4 linked regions of the Homo sapiens genome follow. The protein of the gene in region 2 interacts with the protein of the main gene of each other region in a pairwise test. Each region holds a gene or a part of one and is shown on either strand. Other genes may lie near its edges.

Region 1 (3,500 bases), on a different chromosome or scaffold from region 2:
CATGGAAAGATAGTTCATGGAAATAACAATGAAATAGACAACAAATATTATGGTATTAAGTTATATCAACAGAAAAATGGGAATGTGATTTCATAGGTTACAAAAAATTCTTTGAAAACATTGCCTTTTAATTGCTATCACTTTTATAAAAACCAAGTTATACTGAACCTATTTGAAAGGACAAAAAATTAAAATTAAAAAAAAAAAAAAAACCTTACTATCTGACACAGGCACTTGTGCTCATTGACCAATTTTTCCAGAGATAGACATTCAATGACATCAGCTTCTCCTAAAGCTCCTTCTTTATCTTGTTTATTTGCCAACCTGAAAGATAATTAAAGTACTTTTATACAGCATATATATAATTGGATGGAAACTTAAAGATATTTTGACCACATTCTTTTTTTTTTTTTTTTTTGAGACTGAGTCTTGCTCTGTTTCCCAGGCTGGAGTACAGTGGTGCAATCTCAGCTCACTGCAACCTCCGCCTCCCAGGTTCAAGTGATTCTCCTGCCTCAGCCTCCAGAGTAGCTGGGACTACAGTTGTGTGCCACCACGCGAGGCTAATTTTTTGTATTTTCAGTAGAGACTGGGTTTCGCCATGTTGGCCAGGCTGGTCTTGAACTCCTGACCTCAAGTGATCTGTCAGTCTCAGCCTCTCAAAGTGCTGGGATTACAGATATCATCCACCATGCCTGGCCTGACCACATTCTTTGATTCCCAAGTTTTAAATGTACTGATTACAGAACACACTAGTATCTTAAAATGTTGTAGCATCAATTTTGTCATTTTTCCCTTATTATTGCTAAAATAGTTTTTAAGTACTGGCCTATAAAAGGAAAATCAAATAAAGTGTCAAGAAAACATAAACAAGAGATCAATATGCCAACAAAACAGAAAAAGCTACAAAACAGAAAAATAAGAGGACTAATTTCCACAGGTCACATCCATAAATTATATTCTTATCTTCTTAAAATACAAACTGTAATGTTTTAAATGCCCAAATATTCATTCTGAACTTTTAATATTTGAGCTCATCTACAATTCTAATGTGTGAATGTGTCCACATAAATGTGCAATTTACTGAAGACCCAAGGCCACTTCTAATATACTTGGCAAAGCACTGGGAATTAAAAAAAAAAAAAAAATTGTACTCAATTAGAGACAAACTGGACACCAACAAAATGGAAAACCAATATATTCTACAGAAAAACAGGATTTACCACAATTTACCACTATTTAATTATATAACATAGATTTAAAAGTTTAATAAAATACTGCCTTGCTCAAAGTTTGACAGACTCTTTAGGTTAAAAAAAAAATTAAGTACATAGACTAAGAAATCTAACGAACCCTTCCCACCTATCTTTAAAAATTATCAAAACTGTGTCATTCTTGCTTATCTATATACCTTCTTTTTTTTTGTATTTCCCAAGTTACCATTAAAATCTACATACCTTCTATTTTGCTGCCTGAATCACATTACTTCACCCAGATATTAAAAAATCATTACCATGATACCACTATCACACCTAACAAAATTAACAGTAAGTCTTCAATATTACTCAATTTACTCAATATTCTCCAATATCATTTTACAAGTGTTATGTTTAAATTCAGGTCCAATATACGTTACTTATCACTTAACTCTTTTTGAATCTATATTATACCTGCCCTCCCCACTACCACCCCCATGACTCTTTTCCTCCCATGACATTTGTAATTTTTCTTTAGAATTCCCATGTTTGGGATTTGGCTAATATCTTCCTTATAAACTTATTTAACATACCTATCCTATATTTCCCGTATCTGGTGGTAAGAAGCTGGATGAGTTTCAGATGAAATCTTTTTGGCAAGCATACTTCGTAGGTGGTGCTTGTATTTAGGGAGGCATATAATATCACTTTTATATAATGTCCTATTTTGGTGGTATAAAATTAACTAATGGATTTACATTTAGCCTGATCCATCCAAAATAAAGTTCCTCATTAATCTTTCACTTAATGATTTTAGCAGCCATTGATGACCTTTACTTAATTCTATTATTTTACCAAAGTTTATGAAACAGTAACTTTATAGTTCCATATTCCTTCTGCATTTACTAGCAGGATTCTTGCTAAAAATAAGCTTTCACCAACTACTTGGTGCCTCTTAAAATTCACAAAGTCAAGATAAATGTTTGATCCTTTGCCTTTATTTCCTGATTTTCAAAATAATGAATTAATGGCGTAGCAACCTCCGAAGGTGATCAGGTTGATTTAAAAAAAAAAAATCCTATAAATTTAAGGATTATGAGTGCAGTTTTGTGATGTAAATGTATTGCATAGTGGTGATATATTGCATAGTGGTGAGGTCTGGGCTTTCAGTGTAACCATAAGCTTAATAATGTGCATTGTAGGTATTAATTTCTCATCTCTAACTCCCCTTCCACCCTCCCACCTGTCCAAGTCTCCAATGTCTATTAATCCACACTCCATGTCAATGTGTACACATTATTTAACTTCCACTTGTGAGAACACGCTAGATTTGACTGTTTCTGAATTATTTCACTTTAAAAAATGACCTCCAGCTCCATCCACGTTGCTGGAAAAAACATGCTTTTTTAAATAGTTGAATAGCATTCCATTTTATGTATGTATATACAAAACACACACACAAACATTTTCTTTCATCATCCATTGAAGGACATTTAGGTTGACTCCCTACCTTTGCTACTGTGAATAATGCTGTGATAAACATCTTGAGTTCAGATATCTTTTCTTGTATAATGATTTCTTTTCCTTTGGATAGGTACCCAGTAGTGAGGTTGCTAGACTGAATGGTAGTTCTTTTTTTAGGTCTTTAAGAAATCTCCATACTGGCCGGGCACGGTGGCTTACGCCTGTAATCCCAGCACTTTGGGAGGCCGAGGCGGGCGGATCACAAGGTCAGGAGATCGAGACCATCCTGGCTAACACGGTGAAACCCCATCTCTACTAAAAATACAAAAAACTAGCCGGGCGTGGTGGCAGGCGCCTGTAGTCCCAGCTACTCGGGAGGCTGAGGCAGGAGAAGGGCATGAACCCGGGAGGCAGAGCTTGCAGTGAGCCGAGATCGCGCCACTACACTTCAGCCTGGGCAACACAGCGAGACTCCGTCTCAAAAGAAAAAAAAAAAAGAAATCTCCATACTGTTTTCCATAGTGATTGTACTAATTTACATTCCAAGAGTGTATAAACATTCCTTTTGCTACACAATCTCGCAGACATCTGCTATGTTTTAACTTTTCAGTAACAGCTAAAAATTCTGACTGGTGTGAGATGGTATTTCATTGTGGTTTTAATCTGCATTTCTCTGATTAGGCATATTGAGCATTTTTTTCATATGCTTGTTGGCCATCTGTATGTCTTCTTTTGAAAAATGACTATTCATGTCTTTTGCACATTTTTAATGGGGTTGTTTTTTGTTGTTGATTTCCTTGTAAGTTTTGGTTATTAGTCTCCTATAGGATAAAGAGGTCG
Region 2 (3,500 bases):
ATTTATGTATAACTTTTGACTTCCCCAAAACTTAACTACTAATAGCCAACTATTGATCAGAAGCCTTACAGATAACATGAACAGTCAATTAATACATATTTTATATATGTATTATATACTATATTGTTACAATAAAGTAAGCTAGAGACAAGGAAATGACATTTGGAAAATCACGAGGAAGAGACAATATATTTACTATTCATTAAATGGAACTGGATCATCATAAAGGTCTTTATCTTCATCGTCTTCACATTGAATAGGCTGAGGAGGAAGAGGAAGATAGATAAGGGGTTGGTTTTGTTGTTTGAGCAGTGGCAGAGGTGGAAGAAAATGCATGTAAGTTGAACTGCCCAAATCAAATCATGTTGTTCAAGAGCCAACTGTACACATGTGTGTATACATATAATATATACATGAATAATACTTATTACTTATACATTATATGTAATGTTAAATATCTATCTATCTATCTATCTATGTGCTTTATTAAGTCAACTCACAACAAAGAGTTTTTGAGGAGCTAAAATATGTAACCACTGTGGTAAAAGCTGAATGGGATACTGCCATCCCTGCCATTGAGAAGCTCACAATTAACTTTTTTAAAAAAATTCTTATTCAACTGATTACAGGCTTTAGGAGATACTCACAATTAAACAACACTATAAGTACACAATTACAACATGGCATACCATACACATGAACAGAACATTATAAGAACAAAGAAGTTATTTGGCTGATAAAGGAGGTGTGAAGGGTCGCAAAGATAATTTAATATATGATCTGGGTCTTGAAGGATGAGGTGGATTTTGACTGAGGAAGGAGTAGAAGGCCATTCTAAGCAGAGAGAAGGAAAAAAATAAAAGTGAAAAGGCACAGCAGCTTTCCTAGATCTTGAAAGTCCCAGTAGTACACAGCACCTCAAGCCCAGGATGTGGGATAGCAATGAAAAGATTTCATGCCAATCCAGTGAGTTAGGACCAGATTATCAATAAACTTTCAAACAATGGTAAGATATTGGACTTTAACTTATAAGTAGGTGGTAGCCACTGTAAACTTTGAGCAGAAGAGTGATATTTTGTTTGTCTAGAATGAAGAGAGATGAGTTTAGAAGCTGGAAGGCCAGTGACGTGAGTCGTTGACTGAGAGGCAAAGGGAAACAGAACTCCGACAATAGAAGTTATAGTGAAGAGTGAGTAGAAGAGGGCTTGAGGTCACACTGAAGCAATGTTAGCTTAGATTTAGGGTGCAGAAGACACAGTGCCTTCCAGGGAAAGTAGGAAAATGCCATCAAGGTTTTCATCATGCCTGTAGTCAGTAAAGGAGGTACAGGGTATGAAAAAAGGAAGAACAGATTGCTTAGTGTTGTGAAGAAGAATATCAATTTAATTCAGATATACTGAGCTTGAGGTAGCAATGACATATTTAGACCAATATATCTCATGGGAAAATTAGTGAATGGGTGACTCAGTTTAGGAGAAGGAGTTAGGCTGAAGATGTAAGCATGGAACTCAATAAATGTATATTTCAAGCCATGGGAGTGGGAGGGATCATTAAAGCAAAGAAAATATTGAAAAGAAGAGCCAGGATATTTCACAGAGAATATTGGGATATAAAGGGCCACAGTGGGAGAAGACCTAGAGAAACAGTCTAAGAAAGTATGGCCAGAAAAGGTACAAGGCAAATGACAAGATACACTAGATGAAGACGGTATTTTATAAAGGAGATTGTGGCAAAAAGTATTTTAAAAGTTTAGAAAGGCTAGGAAAGGAATTCTAAAATATTTTAGAAAATATCAAGTATGAGGACTTGGTAAGATAATTCACAGTGTTTTGGGAAACGACATTTTAGGTATAGAGGTAGAGATATAAACTTGATTGAATAAAAAACAACATGGTAGAAAAGATACAGTATCAATAAAGTTGAATAACTAAGTGGTATGTAAGTCTCTCTACTACAATGTTGTTGTTTTATGAGGAGGAAAAGCCCAGAATTTCAGATATTAAAAATTATTTATTAAAATATAAAAGTCTGTTGGGCATGGTGGCTCATACCTGTAATCCCACAGCTTTTTAGAGGTCAAGGTGGAAGGATTGCTTGAACCTAGGAGTTCAAGTTTACAGTCAACCATGACTACACCATTGTACTCCAGCCTGGGCGACAGAGCAAGATCCTGTCTCTAAAAATTAATTAAATAAATAAAATATAAAAGTTAAAATTTTCAGCACTTTTGTATCACAGTCATTTCAAAGTTAACTTATCTTTGTGTGAATAATTGGGAAGCATTTCATACACACAAGAGGCATAGCATTTATATTACTGAAAGATGAATAACTAATGTTACTAATAAGTGTTAATGGCATTTGCATTTTTTTTTTTTTTTTTTTTTGAGACAGAGGCTCACTCTTTTTGCCCAGGCTGGAGTACAGTGGCATGATCTTGGCTCACTGCAATCATTGCCTCCTGGATTCAAGCGATTCTCCTGCATCAGCCTCCTGAGTAGCTAGGGTTACAGGTGCCCGCCACCATACCCGGCTAATTTTTGTATTTTAAGCACAGACTGGGTTTCACCATGTTGGGCAGGCTGGTCTCAAACTCCTGACCTCAGGTGATCCACCCACCTTGGCCTCCCAAAGTTCTGGGATTACAGGGACATTTGCACTTTTTATTATTCTAGCATATGAGATTGTTTCTATAATAATTATTGTTAGTTATATTCACTTGGCAATTCCAAATTAAGAGTGTCAATGAATTGAGCAAAACGCGACTGACTTAGCATTAATCAGACAAAAAATGTTGAATACATAAACTTTTATCAACTTCTGTCATAGATATATTTTCAAAAATATCTTAATGAAGTAATTGAATTTATTTTTATAATGATGAAATTACACTGAATCCAAGAAACATGTACATAATAGCCATTATTTAGAATTGAGGTGATAGAGTATTTACAGGTATGCATTTTCTCTCAAGGAGAATACTCACATTAAACACTTTTGAACTGGATTCATCTAATGCAGGACATTACTATTACTGACAGTCAGTGTGTCCTTTACATAGTAATTGCATTAAAATTATGCCTTTGTTCTTCAACTTTAATAAAAACAATGTTATCTTTTTTTACTTTTGTGTACTTATGCTAATAGTACTTATTACTCTGCATATAAAATATTCTCCAATGTATATGCAAATATATCTATTTTAATTCTACCAATCTTTAAGTAACAAAGGAGAGAGGGATATCATTCCAGGTAGTCATAAAATGAGGTGGCATTATCCCAATACAAGTGTTTTAAACTTCAATTGTTCTTACAATTTACTTTTATTCAGAATGTCACACTGTTTTCTCACTTCAAGAATGAGAAGGATGGAATAGGGTAGACAGAGCATGAGCGTCAGCGTTAATCAATCTGGGGCATCATGGATGGAAAATACTCTATTCATGTTTCCTAAAAAGTTATTTTATCTCCCTGAATCTTTTTCTTTCATCTCCAATATGG
Region 3 (3,500 bases), on a different chromosome or scaffold from region 2:
CACATATGTGAAGAGCTGGTAAAGGTAAGGGGGACACATCTCTTTTTTTTCTTCTTTCTTCTAGAATCCAGATCTGCCCTAGATTCTACACTAATATTGAGGCACTGGAAGATTAATCATAAAAATTTCTATACAAAGGCAGTTGAAGTTGATATTTCCATCTCCCACAAAACTAACCAATTATATGAGGTCTGTATAGCTGCATTTCTCAGTTCCAGCACCCCATGGATCTAGAACACTTGCCTCAGAGTCTCGTCCAAAAGTGTCCTCGATCCTATATACATCCAAGTAATTACTTCTGATGTCCTTTCCATTCTAAAATTCCACAAAATGAGGACACATTACAAAATCATGGTGTGGAGGGAAAAAAATGAAGTCACAAGTGACAGCATTGAAAAGATGTACACTGACAACCCTTAACAAACCTCCACAAACATTTGTTGAGCTCCTGGTACATGCCAAGCTTTGTGTCAGATACTGGTGGACAAGACAGACCAAGTAGCTTACATTCTGGTGTGTTGTGTCCACTTGAATTCTGTGTCCTTGTGTCAGAGACTCTGTGGCTCTTCTACTCAAACAAATTTAATGATTCTTGATTAAGGCAAAGATCTGGCCAGTTTCCTGTCCAGAAGTATGTGAACTCCGTTATAAGTTTCATGTATCTTAAGAGAAGGTGCACAAATCAGAAATGTTTCTGACTCACACTCACCCAAAAATGTCCTAGGATGTTGACCTCAAATGTCTTGGTAATCTCTTCATCCTTGGTGCTGAGAAGATCGGCTGGATATACTGTCCCAGCATTATTCACCACGATTGTTACATCACCCACTTCTTTCTTCACCTTTTGAAATTGAAAGAACACTTTCACTGGGTGTATTATTCAAACTCAAAGTTTTGGGACCAATATAATCCAAAGATGAGAGTCTTTCTTCTATTGTATGAGGTCTCTCAGAGTTCAGGCAAGACAGACTGTTGAGCTCAAATCGTGGAGGCCAAGGGAACACTGTCATAAAGGTGGGATAAACTGTTCTTTTAACATCTAAATTTCAGTACCCAGCACATCATGTTTTGCAAGTTTATCAGTAAAGTGAAATTAACATTTATGTTGATAAATTCCTATATAAATTCTGACCAAATATTTTTAAAGTGTTCATTTTTTAAAAATGTGTTTTTCTTTAAACTTTTTTTTTTTTTTTTTTTTTTTTTTTTAGAGATAGGGTCTCACTATGTTGCCTGGGCTGGTCTTGAACTCTTGGTCTCATGTGATCCTTCCACCTTGGCCTCACAAAGTGCTGGGATTACATGTGTGAACCACCGCACCTGGTCTAAAGTGCTGGTTGAGAAATCCTGGTTTCATAACCTAATAACTACATGACCTGGGTCTGGCTTAACCTCTCTGAGTCATAATTTGCTTATCTGTAAAATGAAGTTTACAGAGTTATTGTAGGGATTGAATTAAAAAATGTAAAGTTTGTTAGAGTGCTTAGTTCATTGTGATTATTTGGTATTTACTCTTTTAAAATAATTGTGATAATAATTATTAATATTACATTTTCTACAGAAGACTACATTAACACCAAAATAAAATCTCACAAGGGAAATAATTAAAGAGAAGCTGGAATTACTGCAAAGTTAATAGGACTAAAACAAAACTAGGAAGTGATCCATATTCCCTGATGATAAATCTTTTGTCAGTCACTCTGTGCCACTGCTCACACTTCTGATCAGAATGAAATTGATTAATAATATGAACAATAATAATGGGCAGAGCTGAGTGGATTACATACAAGAAAAAAAGTATATATCCTTCCTTGGTGACATAACTACTTCAGTTAGCAGCTAAAATCCAATTTAAATCAGGCAGTCATAAAGACCTTTCTCATTTTCCACGTCAGCGTCCTAGGAAACAAAATAATCTGAAGAAATTTGTGAACCTGCAGTCTCACCTGATTTAGAGAGCGATAGATCTCTTCTCTGTTGCTGCAGTCTACCACATACGCATGCGCAGTGACGCCTAGTTTTCGGCACTCAGCTGCAGTTTCCTCCACACCGCGCTGTAATTAGGAAGAAACAAATTCCGAAAAAAGTGGAGGAGAAGACATTGGAGAAGAAAAATTTTTAGACAATTAACATTCGGCTAGGCGCGGTGGCTCACGCCTGTAATCCCAGCACTTTGGTTGGCCGAGGAGGGCGGATCACGAGGTCAGGAGTTCAAGACCAGCCTGGCCAACATGGTGAAACCCCGTCTCTACTAAAAATACAAAAATTAGCCAGGCCTGATGGTGTGGGCCTGTAATCCCAGCTACTTGGGAGGCTGAGGCAGGATAATTGCTTGAACCTGGGAGGAGGAAGTTGCAGTGAGTGGAGATAGTGCCACTGGACTCCAGCCTGGGCAACAGAGTGAGACTCTGTCTCAAAAAAAAAAAAAAAAAAAATTAACATTCATGTCCAAAATGAACAATTAACATTCATTTTGGACATGAAGATTAGTTAACCTTTTAAAAATTGGCCTCCTGGGTCAGGTGTGGTGGCTCACGCCTGTAATCCCAGCACTTTAGGAGGCCGAGGAGGGTGGATCACTTGAGGTCAGGAGTTTGAGACCAGTCTGGCCAAAATGGTGAAACCCCATCTCTACTAAAAATACAAAAAATTAGCTGGGCGTGGTGGTGGGAGCCTGTAATCCCAGCTACTCGGGAAGTTTAGACAGGAGAATCACTTGAACCCGGGAGGCGGAGGTTGCAGTGAGCTGAAATCATTCCATTGCACTCCAACCTGGGTGACAGAGTGGGACTTCGTCTCAAAATAAAATAAAAATTGGCCTCCTTATTTGTTAGAAAATTTCTTGAGAGTGATTGCCTAGTTGCAATGAGATTACCCCTGGCTTTTCTGCCAGGGAATGCTCATATTAAAACCAAAACAAACAAAACAAAACAAAATCCCTTCATGCTTTTTTCAGCTTTTCCTCTTGGTTGGAGGCTGTACAGTAGGCAGTTTCTCTAAAGCAGGCTACTTTCAAACCTTGAAGAACATTCTTGAAAAACATTGCTCTTCGTGGTGTCATGGAAGATGAATATGGAGAAGAAAGAAAAACTCAACCATTAATTTATCATACATTTGTTGAGCACCAACTATGTAATAGGCAGTAAAGTGCTAAGTAGTAATTCTAAACTAGTGGTAATGGTAAACTGTATGCCTCTGCCCATCATATTTTTCTTGATGATTCTGACTCATCCTCCTAGGAGGGAAGGGAAAGAAGTCTCCTTAAAGAAGAAGGACTTTCATAGGGAGACCATGCTGCTACTCTAGGAGATATAACATTACATTCTTCAGGTGTTTGGGAGTGAGATGGGCAAGGCCACTGGATGGATTTCTCATTTATGTACCAAACTTGCCCATAACCATAGGACATGGAGACAGAGCAATTTACTTTCAGCCTAAATTCAAAGACCTCTTTCCTAAGATAAAATTGCTCTAATGTTTCTTGACTCACATTCTGGAAA
Region 4 (3,500 bases), on a different chromosome or scaffold from region 2:
AGCTGGGCATGGTGGTGGTGCCTATAGTCCCAGCTACTGGGGAGGCTGAGGTGGGAGAATCGCTTGAATCTGGGAGGTGGAGGTTACAGTAAGCGAGATCACACCACTGCACTCCAGCTGGGTGACAGAGGGAGACCCCGTTGAGAGAGAGAGAGAGAGAGAGAGAGAGAGAGAGAATATATATATATATATATATATATATATATATATATATATACACACACACATATATACACACACACATACATATATATATATACACACACATATACAACCACTTTGCCACTGGCACCAACCACCCAGAACTGACACTGGCTATGGTGCAGGAGCAGAATCTGGAAGACTCCCAGCTCTGCCAGGAGCGAATCTCTTCGTTTCCAAATCATGGATAAGTCTGGGGGTTCAGCCACTTAGGAGACTCGGCACAGCAAGTATCCACGAGAGAACTGTTTGACATAATTGACTCACTGATGTGGCTGTGCTGGGTGTCCCGGGTGAATGTCACCCTTGGATCACTCTTTGTCATCCCTGTCATTCCTATTTCAATGGGACTGCAGGAGTTAAAGGAGCTAACCTTTGTTATTTCACATAATGATGCTTTGTGTTATTCCAATTTCTTTATGAATTTAATGCATATAATAGGATGGCACAGAAGATTAGATGAAAACACCTGCAAAATGTGTGGTAGGGCGCCTATCACATAGTAGGCTTTAAATATAGCATATCTCTTTCCTCTGCTTCCTCCAGCCCATAATCAAGGGTGCTTGCAGCTGGCCCAGTGCCCTTTCTCTCACAGAAGCTGGGGCTTCACTAAGGCTGTCAGTTATCTGCTGAGGATCTGTCAGTGTTTGGAAGAGAAGGAGCCAGTGTTTGCTAGCTTGGCATCCCCCGGACTGTCAGGAGCCAGGCTGGGAACAGCAGAGGCCAGCAGAAGAAAGGCCAGAGTCAGCAGTCTAACATACAAGGAAATCTTTACCGCCCTCGGGCCTGTAGAACCATTCCACCACCGTGGTGGCCTCCACCTCCTCTCTCTTCATGCAGGAGATGCAGCGCAGCTTCATGGGGTTGCCCTGCACGGCCTCCGTCTCCGAGGGCACTTCCACACACACAGGGAAGCAGACACTGACTGCAGAGAGGACAGATGGACAGGGAAGGAACAGCAGGTGGTGGGGGAGGGGCACAGGAGAGAAACATTGGAGAAGAAGGAGGGAGGGAAGAGAGACAGAGAAGGAAGAGTCATGAGGCCAACCTGAAAAAAGCCACGTGCACATGTCTACACCTTCACCTGCGCTCCCTGAATGTACAGGCTCAGAACGTGTACACATTGGAGGAGACCTGGATGATCTAGACATTGACTGAAATCCTTCCCCTGGAAGCAGTGGAGATGCAGCACCGTACATTATACTTGAGCCCTGCTCTCTAAGTCTTATAGCCCAAATGGGAGACAGGGCATCTACCTACCCAGCAACCATCCATCCCCCTTCATTCCACCACCACTCATTAAAATCCACTCTCTGCCAGGTCTGATGCTAGACTAGAGATGCAAAGATGAATAAAACACTAACCATGCCCTAAATGCATTTATAATCCAATAGGGAACACATATTCCTAACTAGGATTAAACCAGACCACAGCAAGTAACACACTCATGATATATTCTGTTCTTAGAAGACAGGCAGTTAGTTACTCCCAGTTGGCCTGGGGAGAAAGGAAGAGAAGGATGGTGAAACATGAGGCTAGAAAGGTAGGCAGGGCCCATGCTGTGAAGACCTCTGTGTGTCCCTTCCAGTGTGAGGTATCCAATGTTTTAAAGTCGTGGAGAGATGTAATTGTATCTGTGTTGTGTGAAAACTGTAGGTAATTCTGACACATGGTGGAGGTTGGAGCAGCAGTGAAGAAAATGGCGAGCGGACCACTAAGCTGGAACAATGGTCTATGCAGAGGAGTATAGCAAGGCAAGTTAAAATCTGGAGCGGGGTCAGATTGTGGGACACCTTGCATGCCACACAGAGGTCTAAGACTTAGTGTTTCTGCCCTCTAGAAACTTGAAGTCTGTTTTTTAAAAGGAGGCAAGTATATCAGCTTGATAATTCAGAATAACTTGAGCGGGACAAGGCTGCCAGCAAAACATGCGCAAATGTGAGCTGCATTAACAGATGTACAGTACGCAGGAGGAAGGAGGCGTAGTTTCTCGGCACTGTTTTTGGAACAAATCTGGACTATTATGATCAGTTCAGGATGTCACATTTTAAAAAAGGAAGTTGTTCAAAGAGTGCATGCCCAGAGGTGAGGGAGATGGTGAAGGATCTGGAGATAAAGTCTGGTGAGGAAAAAATGGGAGAATTCGAGTTGCTTAGCTTGGACACAGAACATATCTGTCTTCAAATATTTGAAGGCTGGCAGATGGAAGAGAAATTTGATTCTGCCCAACCCTAAAAGTTATAAGAAAAAAATAAGTTTAATGCAATAAAGAAAGAATTTTATGATTTTGGAGCTGTTCACAAATGCAAATAACTAAATGCTAAGAGAGTGTACACAGCATTGTTTGGGATATTTGAAAGTAAGACGAGGCCAGGTGCTGTGGCTCACACCTGCAATCCCAGCACTTTGGGAGGCTAAGTTGAGAGGATTGCTTGATGTTAGGGGTCTGAGACAAGCCTGGGCAACATAGTGAGACCCCTGAGTCTACAAAAATAAAATAAAATAAAAATTAGCCAAACATGGTAACACACAACTGTAGTCCCAACCACTCAGGAGGTAAGAGGATTGCTTGAGCCCAGGAGTTTGAGGCTGCAATGAGCTATGATGGCACCACTGCACTCCAGACTGGTTGACAGAGTAAGACCCTATCTCTTGAAAAAATAAAAACAACATGATGGTCACCGCAGATTCTTATATTAGGACTTTGAAGATCCCTTCTGATGCTACTTTTTCATGAATTAATAATAAAAACAGAACCCCCAGAAAAAAAAAGAAATAATACACACTACATTTAAAAACTAGTCCACTGTTAATGGTCAGCCTGTTCATCTCCTGGCAGAGCGTTCTTTCCTAAAAGCAGAGGAAGGTTTTATTTAGAGCTTAATAAGACACTGCCATAAATTAATTTTGAGTCCAAAAACTGTGTTTGATTGACTTAGAAGGCAATGTATTTATTTTAAAACATGGAGTTTAAAAACTAGTGGCACTAGAATTAACTTAAAGTTGTAAACATCAAGGTAAAATAAATGTAATTGGGTTTTCAACTCTCCAGCAAGCTGGGTGAGTCTTATCTGACAGTCTTCAAGAGGACCTATTGCTTCTGCAGATGGTGAGCCACGTTAATGGAGAGAGGACTCACATCTAGGGAGAACTGATCAGAAACATCTTCAGCATATGATGAGTCTGAAGTATTGATTATAGATCTGATTAAACAAAAAGGAAATGTGGTTTGCGCAAAAGTTTGTGAGTGGGCAGAGGGGTAGAGCGTATGCAGCAAGAACTCCGTGTAGTATGGAACC

The links. Proteins that work in one complex are often made in the same cells at the same time.
Region 1: the proteins of THSD7A (region 2) and ARL13B interact in binary tests that used the Homo sapiens proteins (3 or more experiments, as listed by UniProt).
Region 3: the proteins of THSD7A (region 2) and HSD17B13 interact in binary tests that used the Homo sapiens proteins (3 or more experiments, as listed by UniProt).
Region 4: the proteins of THSD7A (region 2) and SCN3B interact in binary tests that used the Homo sapiens proteins (3 or more experiments, as listed by UniProt).

The regions. Positions count from the first base shown.
Region 1 is NC_000003.12:94,032,155-94,035,654, reverse strand, and holds part of ARL13B (ADP-ribosylation factor-like protein 13B), read right to left. Parts: intron 325-3,500; coding exon 219-324; exon of another isoform or gene 214-218; intron 1-213. UniProt on the Homo sapiens protein: Cilium-specific protein required to control the microtubule-based, ciliary axoneme structure. May act by maintaining the association between IFT subcomplexes A and B. Binds GTP but is not able to hydrolyze fit; the GTPase activity remains unclear.
Region 2 is NC_000007.14:11,825,699-11,829,198, reverse strand, and holds part of THSD7A (thrombospondin type-1 domain-containing protein 7A precursor), read left to right. Parts: intron 1-3,500.
Region 3 is NC_000004.12:87,316,383-87,319,882, forward strand, and holds part of HSD17B13 (17-beta-hydroxysteroid dehydrogenase 13 isoform A precursor), read right to left. Parts: intron 2,055-3,500; coding exon 1,947-2,054; intron 842-1,946; coding exon 710-841; intron 1-709. UniProt on the Homo sapiens protein: Plays a pivotal role in hepatic lipid metabolism. In vitro, it catalyzes the oxidation of a variety of lipid substrates, including 17beta-estradiol, retinol, retinal, and leukotriene B4.
Region 4 is NC_000011.10:123,644,625-123,648,124, forward strand, and holds part of SCN3B (sodium channel regulatory subunit beta-3 precursor), read right to left. Parts: intron 1,127-3,500; coding exon 963-1,126; intron 1-962. UniProt on the Homo sapiens protein: Regulatory subunit of multiple voltage-gated sodium (Nav) channels directly mediating the depolarization of excitable membranes.